Linked DNA regions of Homo sapiens: regions 1, 2 and 3 are each reported to be linked to region 4. The links are microRNA targets in miRTarBase. Many come from high-throughput screens and were not tested one by one. Region 4 holds a microRNA gene; each other region holds the end of a gene's coding sequence.
The links. The annotated mature microRNA hsa-miR-6873-3p reads UUCUCUCUGUCUUUCUCUCUCAG and lies in region 4 at 924-946, shown strand. An mRNA with a match to its seed (bases 2 to 7 or 8) in the 3' UTR can be bound and repressed. Matches are read on the target gene's strand: a 7mer-m8 pairs with bases 2 to 8, a 7mer-A1 pairs with bases 2 to 7 and ends in A, and an 8mer does both.

Region 1 (4,119 bases), not on the chromosome of region 4:
TTCATCCACCCACCCACCCATCCATCCATCTTTCCTTCTTCCCTCTATTGTCTGTACCTGTGTGACTGACTATATAATGTATAATGACGTGAACTCACCACCCAACCTGAGTACTCGAATATAATAAAGACTTACCTGTGCTTCTCTGTGACTCCTTGCCTCTGCCTTTCCCAACCTCGGGTAATCACTAATATGGATTTTATGCTTATCATTCCCTTTTTCAAAAAATTTTTTTCTTGCATACTTATGTATATCTAAACAATCTATAATTTAGTTTTAGTCGCCTTTGAGCTTTATAGCAGAGTAATTTGCTCTGTGTCATTTGCGATTTGCTTTTCATCACTCAAAATTATATTTTTAAGATAGCTATATTCATACATTATCTGTAGTAAATTCATTAATTCATTCATCCATCCATCCAATAATGTTTGTTAACTGCCCTCTCTGTGCTTGGGGTGGCTTTGTCCATCCTGGGGATTAAGGGAAGGGGGCTCACATGGAATCAGAGAGAGAAAGTTTCCTATAATTGTTCTAGCCATTCTCCCTAACCATTTTTCTTTGGGAGAAACTGAGGCTCAGATTGAAGAAGAGCCTGCTGTCAGGTCACACAGGGACTCAGGGACAGCAATCCTTTGGGGATCCAGAGATCATCTCCATCTGCTGGTCACAGTGGACTGAGAGTTCCCTTCAGAACCTCAAAGGGCCTCCCCGACTCCCTCTCTCTCTCTGCAGCGGCCGATGGGAGGAGAAGGAGGAGAAGCTGCGGGCAGCGGTGAAGCGGGTGCTCAAGTGCGATGTCCACCTGGGCAACCCGCTGGCCCCGGCTGTGTTGCCTCTCGCCGACTGTGTGCTCACCCTGCTGGCCATGGAGTGTGCCTGCTGTAGCCTTGATGCCTACCGCGCTGCCCTGTGCAACCTTGCCTCACTGCTCAAGCCGGGTGGCCACCTGGTGACCACTGTCACGCTTCGGCTCCCGTCCTACATGGTGGGGAAGCGTGAATTTTCCTGCGTGGCCCTGGAGAAAGAGGAGGTGGAGCAGGCTGTCCTGGATGCTGGCTTTGACATTGAACAGCTCCTACACAGTCCCCAGAGCTACTCTGTCACCAATGCTGCCAACAATGGGGTCTGCTTCATTGTGGCTCGCAAGAAGCCTGGGCCCTGAGCCAGGAGGGCCAGCCAGAGGTCTGGTCAGGCTGTGAGGCCTTGGCCATCTGTATGCTAGAGAGGGGTGAGGAATGGATACTGTCTAACAGTCTCTGATTTCAACACTAACATTCCATCTTCTGAAATTCTGAGATTCTAACATCCTTGTTTTAGAATTCTAAGTTTCCAACATTCCTCATTCTAGGATCCTAGGAGTGGAATTTTCCATTTTCTAATATACTAAGCCTTACAGCTATCTTAGATGCGATCTGACTCCTGTGTGACTGTGGAGCACCCAGGGACGTGGTTTTAGAGTCTACCTAATATGTTAAGGACAAGGAAACCTCTGAGTCTACCTAATATGTTAAGGACAAGGAAACCTCTGGACAGTGGTATATTGGGGAATTTTTTTTTTTTTTTTGAGACGGAGTCTGGCTCTGTCACCCAGGCTAGAGTGCAATGGCACGATCTCGGCTCACTGCAAGCTCTGCGTCCTGGGTTGACGCCATTCTCCTGCCTCAGCCTCCCGAGTAGCTGGGACTACAGGAGCTCGCCACCACACCCAGCTAATTTTTTTTTTTTTTTTTTTATTTGAGACGGAGTTTCGCTCTGTCGCCCAGGCTGGAGTGCAGTGGCGCGATCTCGACTCACTGCAAGCTCCGCCTCCCGGGTTCACGCCATTCTCCTGCCTCAGCCTCCCGTGTAGCTGGGACTACAGGCACGCGCCACCATGCCCGGCTAATTTTTGTATTTTTAGTAGAGATGGGGTTTCACCGTGTTAGCCAGGATGGTCTCGATCTCCTGACCTGGTGATCCACCCACCTTGGCCTCCCAAAGTGCTGGGATTACAGGCGTGAGCCACCGCACCCAGCCAGGGGGAATGTTCTATAACCAGCTCTGTAAAGGAAAAGCACTGATGTGTGGTAGTCACCAATTTCTGTGGTGTAAATACTCCCACCATGGTTGATTTCAAGCCACCAGTGGTTTAATAACCAGCTCATAAATCTCCTAAATATTTTACAGTTGACTCTCATGAGCTGATTGGAGTCAGCTGGAACATACCACTGCCTCTAGACTAAGGTCAGCAGATTTAGCAAATACAGACTGCCCCAGTTCATTGAATTTTAGATAAATGAAATAAATCTATAAGGTTAAGTATGTCCCCAGAACTGCATGGAACATGCTTAATCTAAACAATGATTTGTTGTTCACCTGAAATTCAAATTTAGCTGGGTGTCCTGTATTTCATCTGGCAACCCTACTTCAGACCCAGGTGTAAGGTACATGGATGTGCTTTGGTCAAGGAATAGGCCAAGGCAGAGATCCATGCCTGCATGACTCAGTGGGTTTGGTGCACAGGCACACACCTCCACTTGTTATATAACCTGTTTGTGTAAGTTCATACTTGGTCTGAGCCACTGTTGTCTGTAAAAGGTAATTGTCCTGCTAATGCTGTACAGGGGCTCTTGGGGTTCGGCTCAGCTCAACATGGCTTGACATGGTGGGCACACTGGCGCCCAGTAAGAGAGAGAGAGAGCCAAAGCTGTCCGTTTTGCAGATGGACAGGAAGGAGCCAGGACACAGCTCAGCTTGCTCACGCCCAGAGAGAGAAAAAGTTAAGCTGCTGACCCTGAAGGCAAGGGAGAGCAGGCTGCACAGCTGTGTGTGGAAGCCACGGGCTCAAGCAGCCAAGGCAGGGCGGACAGTGTGAGAGAGCTAGTGTAAGCTGTTGATGAGAGCTGTTGCTGAATAAAACCATATTCACCTGCCTATGGGCCCTGAGTGTTCTTTCTGTCCATCTACCCACTCCCCTCAGACTTTAGCACGGGCTGGACCTGGACCCCAGGACCTGACACCAAGTGAGAAGAGGAGCAGCCCAGGGATCAAGGGTATTCCTCGTACATAAGGTGCCTTTGTGCAAATTAGGAAGAGGTGCTCCTGCAGATGGACACATTGCAGAAAGGAGTGTTCAGGGCTGATTAATTGAGAAAAGCTGTTCCATCTCCCTGTGGAAGCGCTATGAGAACAAGGTGCCTCTTCTGGGCAGACCAATTAGAGAAAGATGTCCCTTCCTTAAGGCTGATTGGGTCACACTACTGAGCACCTGTCAGCCTCCCTTTTTCCCTCAGCCCCAATCTGTGCCTTTGTGTGGGTACACCCTGGGCACAGCAACCTTGATAAGAGCCAGGAGACCTGGAATCTACTCTCAGCCCTGCCACTAATTGTTTCACTTCTCTGGGCCTCGTATTCCTATCCATGAGATTTAATCTAATAATCTACAGGAACATCCTAAGAACAGCAGGAAGTCATTGATGTGGAAGTGCTTTTTTTTTTGAGGCAGAGTCTCACTCCGTCGCCCAGGCTGGAGTGCAGTGGCGTTATCTCGGCTCACTGCAAGCTCCGCCTCCCGGGTTCAGGCCATTCTCCTGCCTCAACCTCCCCAGTAGCTGGGACTACAGGTGCCCGTCACCACGCCCGGCTAATTTTTTGTATTTTTAGTAGAGACGGGGTTTCACCGTGTTAGCCAGGATGGTGAAAGTGCTTTTTTTAAGGTGTAGTTTCACTCTTGTTGCCCAAGCTGGCGTGCAATGGTGCGATCTCAGCTCACTGCAAGCTCCGCCTCCTGGGTTCAAGTGATTCTCCTGCCTCAGCCTCCTGAGTAGCTGGGATTACAGGCATGCACCACCATGCCCAGCAAATTTTTGTGCTTTAAAAAGTAAAAGGTTTTGCACAAATTGACCCATTGATGTTATTCCCCCAGAGGGTCAGGGCTGAGATGGTCTTTCAAAATTACCCAGTCTAATCTCCGGGTTTTTTGTTTGTTTGTTTTGAGACAGAGTCACACTCTATCGCCCAGGCTGGAGTGCAGTGGTGCAATCTCAGCTCACTGCAACCTCAGCTTCCCACGTTCAAGCGATTATCTTGCTGCAGCCTCCCAAGTCGCTGGGACTACAGGCGTGCACCACCACACTCAGC
Region 2 (4,119 bases), not on the chromosome of region 4:
GAGGGGACAGAGTTTTACTCTTGTCGCCCAGGCTGGAGTGCAACGGCGCGATCTCGGCCCACCGAAACCTCCGCCTCCCAGGTCAAGCAATTCTCCTGCCTCAGTCTCCCGAGTAGCTGGGATTACAGGTGCCCACCACCACGCCCAGCTAATTTTTGTATTTTTAGTAAAGACAGGGTTTTGCCATGTTGGCTAGGCTGTTCTCGAACTCCTGAGGTGATCCACCCACCTTGGCCTCCCAAAGTGCTGGGATTACAGGCATGAGCCACCACGCCCAGTCTGAAAAGAATTTTTGAGACAGGGTCTGGCTCTGCCACCCAGGCTGGAATGCAGCGGTACAATCTCAGCTCACTTCAACCTCCACCTCTTGGGTTCAAGCCATCCTCCCACCTCAGCCTCCCCAGTAGCTAGGACTATAGGCACATGCCACCATGCCCAGCTAATTTTTGTATATTTTTGTAGAGACAGGGTTTCACCATATTGCCCAGGCTGGTCTTGAATTCCTGGGCTCAAGCGATCCGCCCATCTCGGCCTCCCAAAGTACTTGGATTATAGACATGAGCCACCGCGCCCAGCCTCCCCCTGCCCTTTTAACAGCTGCTTATCCACTTATTTGAAAGCTCTTCCCCTGGGGAGGGTGGGGGTTTGGGGAGAAACTGGTGTGTGGCTTGGAGGTGTGGGGAGCACTTTCAGGAACCAGCCCTCTGCTGCCCCGTCTCACATGGCCACCAGCGACCCAGCCCCTGGATCCTGCCCCACTAACCATCGCTATCTTCTTTTCTTCCTCCTACTCCAGCATACTTCCACAGGCTGCACTCGAGGAGATCCACAAATTCTCAGGAACCTACACCTGCATGAACACTTTCAAAGGGCGGACATAGAGACAGGATGAAGACATGCTTGAGGAGCCACGGAGTTTGGGGGCCACAGCACCTGGGCACACACCCGAGCACCTGTCCATTGGCATGCTTCTGCTGGGTGAGCAGGACAGCTCCTGTCCCCAGCGAAGAATCCGGCTGCCCCTGGGCCAGTCCCAGGACCTTTGCACAGGACTGATGGGTATAACTGACCCCCACAGGGAGGCAGGAAAACAGCCAGAAGCCACCTTGACACTTTTGAACATTTCCAGTTCTGTAGAGTTTATTGTCAATTGCTTCTCAAGTCTAACCAGCCTCAGCAGTGTGCATAGACCATTTCCAGGAGGGTCTGTCCCCAGATGCTCTGCCTCCCGTTCCAAAACCCACTCATCCTCAGCTTGCACAAACTGGTTGAACGGCAGGAATGAAAAATAAAGAGAGATGGCTTTTGTGATTTCCTTTGTTCAAATCTTCCGTGGGCAGTTGGGAGGGAGCCAGTCCCAACCATAAAACTCCATCCTTTGAGAGAGAACTGGTCAGTTCAAGGTCCCCAACTGCCAAGGGTGGAGAGAAGGGGGCCGAAATCAGGAGAGAAAGTGGAGCCCAGGCCTAGGGGCAGAGAGGGGTGCTGGGTTCCTCGCCAGCTCCACCAGGCCCCTCCCAGCAGCCATGGGTTGAAGCCGCTTTGTCTCCTTGGTGTGACCTTTATGAAACAGTCTGCAAACAGCTGGCCACAGCTAGAGATGCCCTCTGTCCTGCCATGGCACCACCAGCCTCCAGGCCACCAACTCAGGAGAGCAAAACCAGTGTTTATGGAGCACCCACTGTCTACCTAGGGTGTGTGTGGTGCAGAGAGGGGAACGTTGCTGAGAAGAACCACTAGTACAAGAAGCCAATAATCTGGGTAGGAAAGGATCACAAGTCACCGGAAACACAGTGACAACTCCTCACCATAAGGCCAGTGCCGAGGGGTGCTACAGACCGAGTCCCATTTGATCACAGGGGCAGGGGGAGGTCTGGAGTGGCAGAAGAGATCGGCCCTGGTTCCATCAATGGGGCAAAGTCACGGCCAAAATGACCTAGTAGAGATGCCCCCTGCTTCCTCCAGGGTGCACGCTCCCTGCTGCCACAAGCTTAATAAACCTCACCTTGGGCAGTGGGGAAGAAAGTGGGCCATGTCATTTCATAGCAAGTAAACTCCATTCCACACAGCTCTTGCAGATGAGTGCCAGGGTGGCAGGAGGGGAGCAGGCAAGGTCCCCGGGAGGTGAAGGAGGTCACAGCCCTCTGACCCAACCCAGAAGCTTCCCCAAGAGTTACATAAAGTCTTAACCTACATGCAAACCTCAGGCTGAAACCTCCCAGCTTAGAGAATATTAGACATAGCTCAGGTGATCATCAGTCTGGTCTATGTGCAGAAATGCCAAGTCACGATTATAGCCATGCTTTTTTTCTTCTTCTCTTTTTTTTTTTTTTAAACATGGGAACTTGCTCTGTCACCCAGGCTGGAGTGTGGAGTGGAATGGCACAATCACGGCTCACTGCAGCCTCAACCTCCTGGGCTCAAACAATCCTCCACCTCAGCCTCCGGAGTTGCTGGGACTACAGGTGCATGCCACCACGCCCAACTGTTTTCTTTTTATTTTTCGTAAAGACAGAGGTCTTGCTATGTTGTCCAGGCTGGTCTTGAACCCCTAGGCTCAAGCAATCCTCCTCCCTCAGCCTCCCAAAGTGCTGGGATTACTGGAATGAGCTACCACGCCCGGCCTGTAGCCACTCTTGAATGAGTACCTAGAATGGAGGTCAGTCCCCAGGCATAACATTTTAACTCTTCATTATCCATGCCACTTGGCAGCAGCTGAAGACCAAAAAAACACAACTCCGAGACCGCTCTGGAGACTTCCAACAGCCTTGATGTGGCGCAGCCAGAATGTGACGCCCAAATCTCAGTGGCTTCCAACAATGAAGGTTTCTGCCTTATTACTGCTACTAGTCCTTCAAGAATGGCTACAGGTGTGCTCCGTGTCATCTTCGCTCTGAAACTCAGGCTGACCAGGGGGCCTCAGGGAGGATGTCTTATGGCACAGGGTAGACATACCTGGTGAACTGTGCACTGGCTCTTGAAGTTTCCACCTGGAAACAACACTGTCACTTCTGCTCACATTTCATTAGCTGGAACAGGGCACGTGGTGGAGCCGCTATTAACATAGCAGGAAATACAATCCCGCGTGGAGGAGTAGTCGTTAGTTCTGAACCAGGCTCTGCCATGCCAGGGAAGAAGACATCATGAGCAAAAATTAAAATATAGGTTGAGGACAGAGGGAAGCAGCTGTATGGCTTCCAACTGCAAGCCCAAGGACACAGTGACTTTTGGGAGGGCACAGGAGGTGCTAAGCAGAGCCCTAAAGAGGCAACTGTCAGTGTTCATCTCACGCTAAACTTATTTAGGTCCTCACTCTGTTGCCCAGGCTGGAGTGCAGTGGCCCGATCATGGCCACTGCAGCCTCCACCTCCCAGGCTCAAGCAATCCTCCCACCTCAGCCTCTCGAGTAGCTGAGATTACAGGCATGTGCCACCACGCCTGGCTCACTTCATCATTTTTTTGTAAAGATAGGGTCTCGCTATGTTGCCCAGGCTAGTCTGGAATTCCTGGCTTAAGCAACCCTTCTGCCTTGACTTCCCAAAGGAGTGCAACAAGGATCCCTAAAGTCTGATTGGACTCTGGGAGTTGCAAGCCCCGCCAGCCCTCCCCAGTTGCATTGAGAACCAATCGCTGTGTTAGCAGAGTGGGACCCTGGCGTCCCAGAGCCCCAGGGGCTCAGAAGGGCAGGGCCTGGTCCCACCCCACCCCCTCCCTCTCAGCCAGGAGCTTTCAGTCTTTTTCTGGATCTTTTCCCAGAGGAACCAAAAGAAAAAGCACTGGGCAGAATCCCAGGAGGCCCCATTCTGGTCCCTCTCCCAGATGGTTTAGCACTCAGAGAGCCTTGAGAGTGAGCGTGGAGAGCTAATTCTGTCCTTAGCTTGGCCATGCAAAGAAGAGTGACAAGTGCCAAACCCCCAAGGGGCAGGATGGGGCAGGCCAACCCTGGGAAGAGGACTTGGGTCCTGGGAAATAACCTCATTGCCATGCTTAGGGTTCCTCCCCATCCCCAAGGAAAACCAGATTGGAGGTAGGGATCCAGCCCAGGGAGGCAGCAGACCCAAGCCCCATGCTGGCACCATTCCAGGGGCTTGGACTATCCGGCCTGGTGAATGGTCAGGA
Region 3 (4,119 bases), not on the chromosome of region 4:
TCAGACGCAGCTGCCCCCTGCTGTAGGGCACTGGGTTTCCATGCGGAGCCCCTGAGAAAATACAGTACTCAGCAGCTGGGTGCAGTGGCTCAGAAGAAGGAGTTCTGGTGTAAAAAAAACAAAAAAAAACAGGCTGGGCACAGTGGCTCACGCCTATAATCCCAGCACTTTGGGAGGCCAAGGCAGGTGGATCACCTGAGGTCAGGAGTTCGAGACCAGCCTGGCCAACATGGCGAAACCCCGTCTCTACTAAAAATACAAACTTAGCTGGGCGTGGTGGCAGGTGCCTGTAATTCCAGCTACTCGGGAGGCTGAGGCAGGACACTTGAATCCGGGCTGTGAAGGTTGCAGTGAGCCAAGATTGCACCATTGCACTCGAGCCTGGGTGACAAGAGTGAAACTCTGTCTCAAAAAGAAAAAATAAAAATAAAAAAAACAGAAAATGAAAACCACTGGTCTAAGAGAATCTGCTAGAGTCTTGAGAGGAAGACTTCCTTCTTCCTGGCAAGCCCCAGTTTCCTTTTTCAGAACTAAACTCATGCTGCCTCTTGTTTTGCCCGTCCCTGCCCATTTCCAGAGTTCGGCGTGTACTGCAGCCACTGCCGGAGTGAGGTCCGTGGCACGCAGTGTGCCATCTGCAAAGGCTTCACGTTCCAGTGTGCCATCTGTCACGTGGCTGTGCGGGGATCGTCCAATTTCTGCCTGACCTGTGGGCACGGTGGCCACACCAGCCACATGATGGAGTGGTTTCGGACCCAGGAGGTGTGTCCCACCGGGTGTGGGTGCCACTGCCTGCTTGAAAGCACTTTCTGAACCTACAGAAGTTGGGTATTGTCTGAAATCCCAGAGGACCCATAAGTGCCGGTGACAAGCTGTCTGTCAGGGGAGAGGCTCCAGAACCTGGGTTCGTCCCCAGTGAGACCGGAGGATGATCCCCCAAGGACTGCGCAGCATCAGCTCTTGGTGGGCCTCTGCCTTCTCTTCTGTTTGGCCACCTGGTGTGGATGTCACTGTGTGAAGATAAGGACAGAAGTGCAGAGCTGCGCTTTGTGTGTTGTCTATGTCGGCTGAGCTACCAAGGTGGAAGTTTTCATGGAGAAAAGCACCTGGCTCCAGGGCCAGTGTTACAGTGTTACCCTGTAAGGTGTTAGCCTTAAACCACCGAGCAGCGTTCTCTTGATGCCAGTGCAGAGACCAGAGTCAGATGCCCGAGGACAGTGGGTAGGAATTTCATCAACAAATGGACCTATGGCATCATGGCTTTAGAAGCTGGTACATTTACTGAGCTGATGGACAGTGGCCTTCTAAAATATGACACTTAAATTGTAAATATGCACTGTACTTAAGGATTCTTAAGATGTATTTTTTTGTTATTTCTCCTCCAGCTGCTATCCCTTGGCTAATAAAATTCTAGTAATTTGAAAAAAAAAAAAAAGAGAGAAAGTTAAACAACATTATGGTGAATCATTTTTTACCCTAATTCTAATTGAAGGTAGCTATTTTGAATAGGACCAAAGTCAGTGCTCCGATTTTTAAAGGAAATGCTGATTTACTTTTGTCATCTGACAAGAGAAAATGGAATTTGACATTTAAGGTTCTTCCTAGCCCCAAGAGTCTTATTTCTTCTAGCAAAAGGAGGACAAGATTGCCGTGCAGCATGGATAGAAAAGTCTCCCTGGCCAGGCCCCATGGCTCATGCCTGTAATCCCACACTTTAGAAGGCAAAAGTGAGGGGATCACCTGAGCTCAGGAGTTCGAGACCAGCCTGGGCAACATAAGGAGATCCCATCTCTGCAAAAAATTTAAAAAATAGGCCGGGCACGGTGGCTCATGCCTGTAATCCCAGCACTTTGGGAGGCTGAGGTGGGAGGATTACCTGAGGTCAGGAGTTCGAGACTAGCCTGGCCAACATGGTGAAACCCCATCTCTACTAAAAATAGAAAAATTAGCCGGGCATGGTGGCGGGCGCCTGTAATCCCAGGTACTGGGGAGGCTGAGACAGGAGAATCGCTTGAACTTGGGAAGCAGAGGTTGCAGCGAGCTGAGATTATGCCATTGCACTCCAGCCTGGGTGACAAGAGTGAGACTCTGTCTCAAAAAAAGAAAAAAAAAATTAAAAAAATAGCCGGGTGTGGTGGCACATGCCTGTGGTCCCAGCTACTTGAGGGGCCGAGGTGGGAGGATCACTTGAGTCCAGGAGGTTGAGGCTGCAGTGAGCCTTGATTGCACCGCTGCACTCCAGCCTGGGCAACAGAGTGAGACCCTGTCAATAAACCAAAGTCTTCCTTGCCTCTGTTCAGATGGGCTGGGTTCCAGTGAGTGCCCTCACTCTTCCTTTAGGCTCCCTCGCAAACTGCCTGTGTTTGCCTGTGTTCTGAGTAGTTATAACATCTGTGTCCACCAATTCTTCAGAATGATTTTCTTTTTTAAAGTTAAATTTTTTTTTTTTTTTTTTAGAGAGAGAGACAGGGTCTCACTCTGTCACCCAGACTGGAGAGTGGTGATGCAATCATAGCTCACTGTAGCCTCTATCACCTGAGCTCAAGTGATCCTCCCACCTCAGCCTCCCGAGTAGCTGGGACTACAGGTGTGCACCACCATGCCTGGCTAATTTCAGAATGATTTTCAACTTCACATTTTGTATGTGCCAGTGAAAAGAAATCTTTTTTATTATTTCTACTGAAATATCTATTTCTGTTTCTTAGAATTTTACAGTTCCAAGTAGATTAGCTTAGGGACTAGGACATGTCTCATAATGGGAGAGCATTGCATATTCATGTGTTTCAAACTCCAGGTCAGGACCCATTAGTGGATTGTGACATTGATCTAGTGCGGAAAACCAGCATTTAAAAAAATGAAATGGTGTAAGAGAAAAATGATCACAATGTACCATACATAGCTAAGGAAAATGTTTTGTGTAACTTGTTTACGTGTGTGCAGCACATGTGTGCACAGGTGTATACCGGATCATAGCGTAAATTCATTTCTTACTGAAAGTTGTAGTCAAAACATTTTCACAACACTGTTTTGGATGAAGCTTATACCTCGTCCCCTGTGTTACTGGGCACAAAACTTCAGGATGTAAGAAAGAACTGAGATCCTGTGCAGTGGAACCAGAGGTTTAGTGCTGGGCTCTGGTCTGAGGTAAGGTGCCAGTGTCTCAGTAGCGTGAGCAGGGCGGGGGAGCCGCTGGGAGGATGACAGGAGAAGGCCCAGCCGGGAATTTGCATACACAAATTCTGTTGTAATGGTGATCACAGAATAGGTTGGCTGATTTACACAGAGAGAAAGGATCTGTTGTGTTCCTCAGTGAAATCACACCATTTGCAGAGAGCAATCTTTTCCTGTTCCCCACTGCTCAAGTTAGTGTAAAAACCTGTCCCTATCTGTCCCCATCAAGAATGAGATGTTTTTCTTGTTTTATTGTTGGAGGAACATTGACTTTCAAAATTGAAAAACCTTAATGGTGTGAAGAAATTTCGAGTTTAAAATATTACATAATGTCATCCTTCAATACGGAAATTCCTTTTGAATTTCCAAGTTACCAGAACAAAAGTCTAATATTTTAAAATATTCATGTTTGGAAACAGGTTGGTTGTCTGGTTGCGGGCCATGGCCGATATTCTCTCAGCCGCAGAATAGATGATTACAAGCACCTGAGTCTTTTGTTTGTTTATTTGTTTTTAAGAGCAATACAAGGCCAAGTGGGGTGGCTCACGCCTGTAATGCCAGCACTTTGGGAGGCCGAGGTGGGTGGATCACCTGAGGTCAGGAGTTCAAGACCAGCCTGGCCAACATGGCGAAACCCTGTCTTTACGAAAAATGCAAAAATTTTCCGGGTGTGGTGGCGGTTGCCTGTAATCCCAGCTACTCAGGAGGCTGAGGCAGGAGAATCGCTTGAACCCGGGAGGCGGAGGTTGCAGTGAGCCGAGATTGTGCCACTGCACTGCAGCCTGGGTGACAAAGCAAAACTCCGTCTCAAAAAAAAAAAATGAATAAAGGCAATACAAGCTATGTTTGAAAGTACCTTTGCAAGAAAACAGGCCCAGCAGTCGTATTTGTGCACCAGAAACAAAAGGTTGCTCAGGCAGGATACTGGAAAGGATGGGGGAAGGGGCG
Region 4 (4,119 bases):
TGTGGACATTGCAAGTGCAGCCAAGGTGAGCCTGAGGAGGTAAAGGAGCCAAGGGATTGATTGGTGGTGCAGGACAATAGAGGAATGGGGGCTAGAAGAAGGCGTTACTGCAGGGCACTCTTTTTTTTCACTCTTCTCTTTCCCAGCACTTTGACTTGAATCTGCGGCAGTTTGGACCCTACAGACTAAACTACTCTCGAACTGGAAGGTAAGGTTGAATTCTAGTGACTCTTGAACTAAGATGTGTTTCCTTAACCACTTCAGCCATTCCCAGTGTATGTTTGGGTTGCTGATGAGGGGAGGGTCCTTCGATTTGCTTGGGTGTGAGGGTAAGCACCTACAGCAACATGTGTCTGCCCGCCTGGAGAGATGGGGCTGGCGTGGGGCAGACCTCAAGTTGTCTGAGTCGGTGGTCCCCTGCCTTAACACCCTGCCTGCCCCTCACCTCCAACAGACACCTGGCTTTTGGAGGGCGCCGAGGTCATGTGGCTGCCCTTGATTGGGTAACAAAGAAGCTTATGTGCGAGATCAACGTCATGGAGGCGGTGCGGGACATCCGGTCAGTGGCCTCACTGTCAGCGGTCAGTTGGGGTGAGATAGTCCATTCCTGATTGAATGATAGCCTGTGACCTCATTTCCCAATTGAACCACTCTTCCTCTCCCCCAGGTTTCTCCATTCTGAGGCACTGCTTGCTGTTGCTCAGAACCGCTGGCTCCACATCTATGACAATCAGGGCATTGAGCTCCACTGTATCCGCCGCTGTGACCGAGTAACACGGCTTGAGTTCCTGCCCTTCCACTTCCTCCTGGCTACAGCTGTGAGTGGCCATGGAGCTCAGGAACTGGTTGGAAGCCCTTGGGATGACCACCTCTCCTTTAGGACCCCAGCAGAGGGAATACAGAGGGCAATCAGGACTGGGTCATTCTCTCTGTCTTTCTCTCTCAGTCAGAAACAGGGTTTCTAACCTACCTGGATGTGTCAGTGGGGAAGATTGTGGCAGCTCTGAATGCTCGAGCTGGGCGGCTCGATGTTATGAGTCAGAACCCTTACAATGCCGTCATCCATCTCGGACACAGCAATGGTCAGTACCTGGCTTAGTTTTGACTCTGACCATCCTGACTTGCTTTTCTTCTATATTTGTACTTCATGAGTCCCTTAAAGTTACCCTTTTATTTCCCTTTTTTGTTATCTCTTGGTCTTGAGTTCCCATCTTTCCCATGTTTAGTAACCTCAGGCTTAGGTGTGTATTAGCAACTTTGGTTCTTCTTCTCTTCCAGGTACTGTGTCTTTATGGAGTCCAGCTATGAAGGAGCCACTGGCAAAGATTCTCTGTCATCGTGGTGGGGTCCGGGCTGTGGCAGTAGATTCTACAGGCACGTAAGTCACTGGTGGGGTGAGGTGTTAGGAGTCATAGGTGGGCAGAAAGGTGTGGAAGGCAGTGTGCTTTAGGAGCACAGAGTCTAAAGCCAGGATGCCCAGGTTTAAATCGCAGTGTTACCACGGATGGGCCTTGCAAGTATAGGCATATTTCATAACCTCTGTGTGCCACAGTTTCCTGACCCCGAAAATGGAAATATGAGTGTCCATTTCAAGGGTCCACAAACTTTTTCTGTAAAGAGTCAGATAGTAAATATTTTATGATTTGCTGATAAGAGGTAAAATCAAAGGGTACCATGTAGGCATTTAAATACCAAGAGAAAACAAATTATCACAACTTTTTTTTTTGAGATGGAGTCTCGCTCTGACACCCAGGCTGGAGTGCAATGGCGCAATCTCAGCTCACTGCAACCTCCACCTCTCAGGTTCAAGTGATTCTCCTGCCTTGGCCTCTCGAGTATCTGGGACTACAGGCGCCTGCTACAACACCTGGCTAATTTTTGTATTTTTAGTAGAGACAGGGTTTCAGCATGTTGTTCAGGCTGGTCTCGAATTCCTGACCTCAAGTGATCTGCCCGCCTCAGCCTCCCAAAGTGCTGGGATTATAGGCGTGAGCCACTGCGCCTGACCTTTTTTTTTTTAAATCTTTTGAGAGAGACGTAGTCTTGCTCTGTCTCCCAGGTTGGAGTGCAGTGGCGTGATCTCGGCTCACTGCAACCTCCGCCTCCCAGATTCAAGCGATTCTCCTGCCTCAGTCTCCCAAGTAGCTGGGATTACAGGCACCTGCCATCATGCCCAGCTAATTTTGTATTTTTTTGTAGAGACGGGGTTTTACTGTGTTGGCCAGGCTGGTCTTGAACTCCTGACCTCAGATGATCTGCCCGCCTCGGCCTCCCAAAGTGTTGGGATTACAGGCGTGAGCCACTGCGCCTGGCCCACACATTTTTAGGTTATAAAATTAAACGTAATATGGCCAGGTGCGGTGGCTCACGCCTGTAATCCCAGCACTTTGGAGGCCAAGGCGGGTGGATCGCCTGAGGTCAGGAGTTTGAGACCAGCCTGGCCAACATGGCGAAACTCTGTCTCTACTAAAAATTCACAAAATTAGCCGGGTGTCGTGGCGGGGGCCTGTAATTCCGGCAACTTGGGAGGCTGAGGCAGGAGAATTGCTTGAACCTGGGAGGCAGGGGTTGCAGTGAGCCAAGACTGTGCCATTGCACTCCAACCTGGGCAACAAGAGCAAAACTCCGTCTCAAAAACAAACAAACAAACAAAACATAATATGAGACTGGACACAGTGGCTCATGCCTGTAATCTTAACAGTTTGGTAGGCTGAGGTGGGCAGATCACTTGAGCCCAGAAGTTCGAAACAAGCCATGTCACCCATGACATGGCAAAACTCTGTCTCTACAGAAGATAGAAAAATTAGCCGGGTGTGGTGGTGCATGCCTGTAGTCCCAGCTACTCAGGAGGCTGAGGTGATCCTCCCACCTCAGCCCAGGAGGTTAAGGCTGCAGTGAGCTGTGATCATGCCACTGCACTCTAGCATGGGCAACAGAGTGAGACCCGGTCTCAGAAAAAAAAAATAATAATAATCAAATATATTTGTGTAATACAGATCTACTAATGGGAAGAACTGAATTTCTCTTTTTGAGGTTAACATTTTGCCTAATTGATGTACAAAGTTAGTGTTCCAGATGGTCAAATTTGACTGTAGATATTCATGTTCATGCTGATCTGTAGAGATTGCAAGTATTTCATCTTTGAAAACATCTTTTCACACAGGTAATGATAGGTGATATGTGAGGTGCTTGAAATGCTGTGAAGCACTTACGACTGTGTCACTGTGACTTGTAGTGTACAAAGCAGCAGTGCAAATCAGGATGCTGTAGTCGCTGTCGTGACCACTCGGCTGTGTGTTGTAGAGCAAAAGCAGCCACAGTATTAAGTAAATAGTGTGGCCCCGTTCCAATAAAACTTTATTTGTTGGATATTGGAATTTGAATTTCATACGGTTTTCACAGTCTCAAAATATTCTTTTGATTTTTTTTCAACCACTTAAAAATGTAAAAACCATTCTTGGCTTGTGGGCTATACAGAACTAGATGATGGGCCAGGTTTGGCCCATGGGCAGTAGTTTACCAAGCCTTGGTTTAAAGCCCTCATATAAGCTGTTGTAGACATTAAGATGAGTTAAGGCATATAGTTTAGCACAGCGCTTAGCAAAATAGGGAGCGCTGTGTTCATCATTGTCATTCAAGATGATCGTTCTCTCCAGGTCTGGCTGATGTGAGGGGTGGAGGTGGTGTCTGCTTTGGATTTCTGCTGTTCCTGAGGGAGTATCTGCATTTTCCACAGCTTTTCTGTCTGATTTGTATTTTCCTCTGATTCCTTTTGTCATCAGGTATTCACTGGGCACCTGCTGTGGGCAGGGCTCTGCGCTGAGGTTCTGGAGACAAAAGGATGAATCGTTGAGCCTGCCCTGGTGTGGTGCTCCCGTTATCCTTTAGGTATAAAAACTTGTGGCTATTTTTTTTTTTTTTTTGAGACAGAGTCTTGATCTGTCACCCAGGCTGGAGTGCAGTGGCACAATCTCAGCTCACCACAACCTCTGCCCCCCGGGGTTCAAGCGATTCTCCTGCCTCAGCCTCCTGAGTAGCTGGGATTACAGGCGCCCACGAACCACGCCCAGTTAATTTTTTAATGTTTAGTAGAGATGGGGTTTCACCATCTTGGCCAGG

Region 1: miRTarBase lists INMT as a target of hsa-miR-6873-3p. Seed matches in the 3' UTR shown: 7mer-m8 at 2,667-2,673, 7mer-m8 at 2,669-2,675, 7mer-m8 at 2,671-2,677, 7mer-m8 at 2,673-2,679, 7mer-m8 at 2,746-2,752 and 8mer at 2,748-2,755.
Region 2: the mRNA of DHRS3 is a reported target of hsa-miR-6873-3p. Seed matches in the 3' UTR shown: 7mer-m8 at 1,293-1,299.
Region 3: the mRNA of WDR59 is a reported target of hsa-miR-6873-3p. Seed matches in the 3' UTR shown: 8mer at 1,435-1,442, 7mer-m8 at 2,456-2,462, 7mer-m8 at 2,458-2,464, 7mer-m8 at 2,460-2,466 and 8mer at 3,282-3,289.

Annotation. Positions count from the first base shown.
Region 1 is chr7:30,754,690-30,758,808 of GRCh38, forward strand. INMT (indolethylamine N-methyltransferase) reads left to right here. Exons shown (of 3, transcript NM_006774.5): 3 at 733-2,913. The coding sequence ends at 1,162. The region is part of intron 2 of INMT-MINDY4 (INMT-MINDY4 readthrough (NMD candidate)); the gene reads left to right. Among named protein-coding and RNA genes, the nearest start is that of INMT-MINDY4, 4.6 kb to the left of the region's middle.
Region 2 is chr1:12,565,102-12,569,220 of GRCh38, reverse strand. It overlaps DHRS3 (dehydrogenase/reductase 3), which reads left to right. Exons shown (of 6, transcript NM_004753.7): 6 at 797-1,311. The coding sequence ends at 881. Among named protein-coding and RNA genes, the nearest start is that of MIR6730, 12 kb to the left of the region's middle.
Region 3 is chr16:74,870,903-74,875,021 of GRCh38, reverse strand. It overlaps WDR59 (WD repeat domain 59), which reads left to right. Exons shown (of 26, transcript NM_030581.4): 26 at 578-3,660. The coding sequence ends at 813. Among named protein-coding and RNA genes, the nearest start is that of FA2H, 98 kb to the right of the region's middle. RefSeq lists enhancers at 72-797, 3,003-3,551.
Region 4 is chr6:33,284,054-33,288,172 of GRCh38, reverse strand. MIR6873 (microRNA 6873) reads left to right here and starts at 884; the gene lies at 884-946. WDR46 (WD repeat domain 46) reads left to right here. Exons shown (of 15, transcript NM_005452.6): 5 at 1-25; 6 at 147-208; 7 at 455-559; 8 at 668-818; 9 at 947-1,082; 10 at 1,279-1,378. RefSeq lists enhancers at 1-407, 408-941.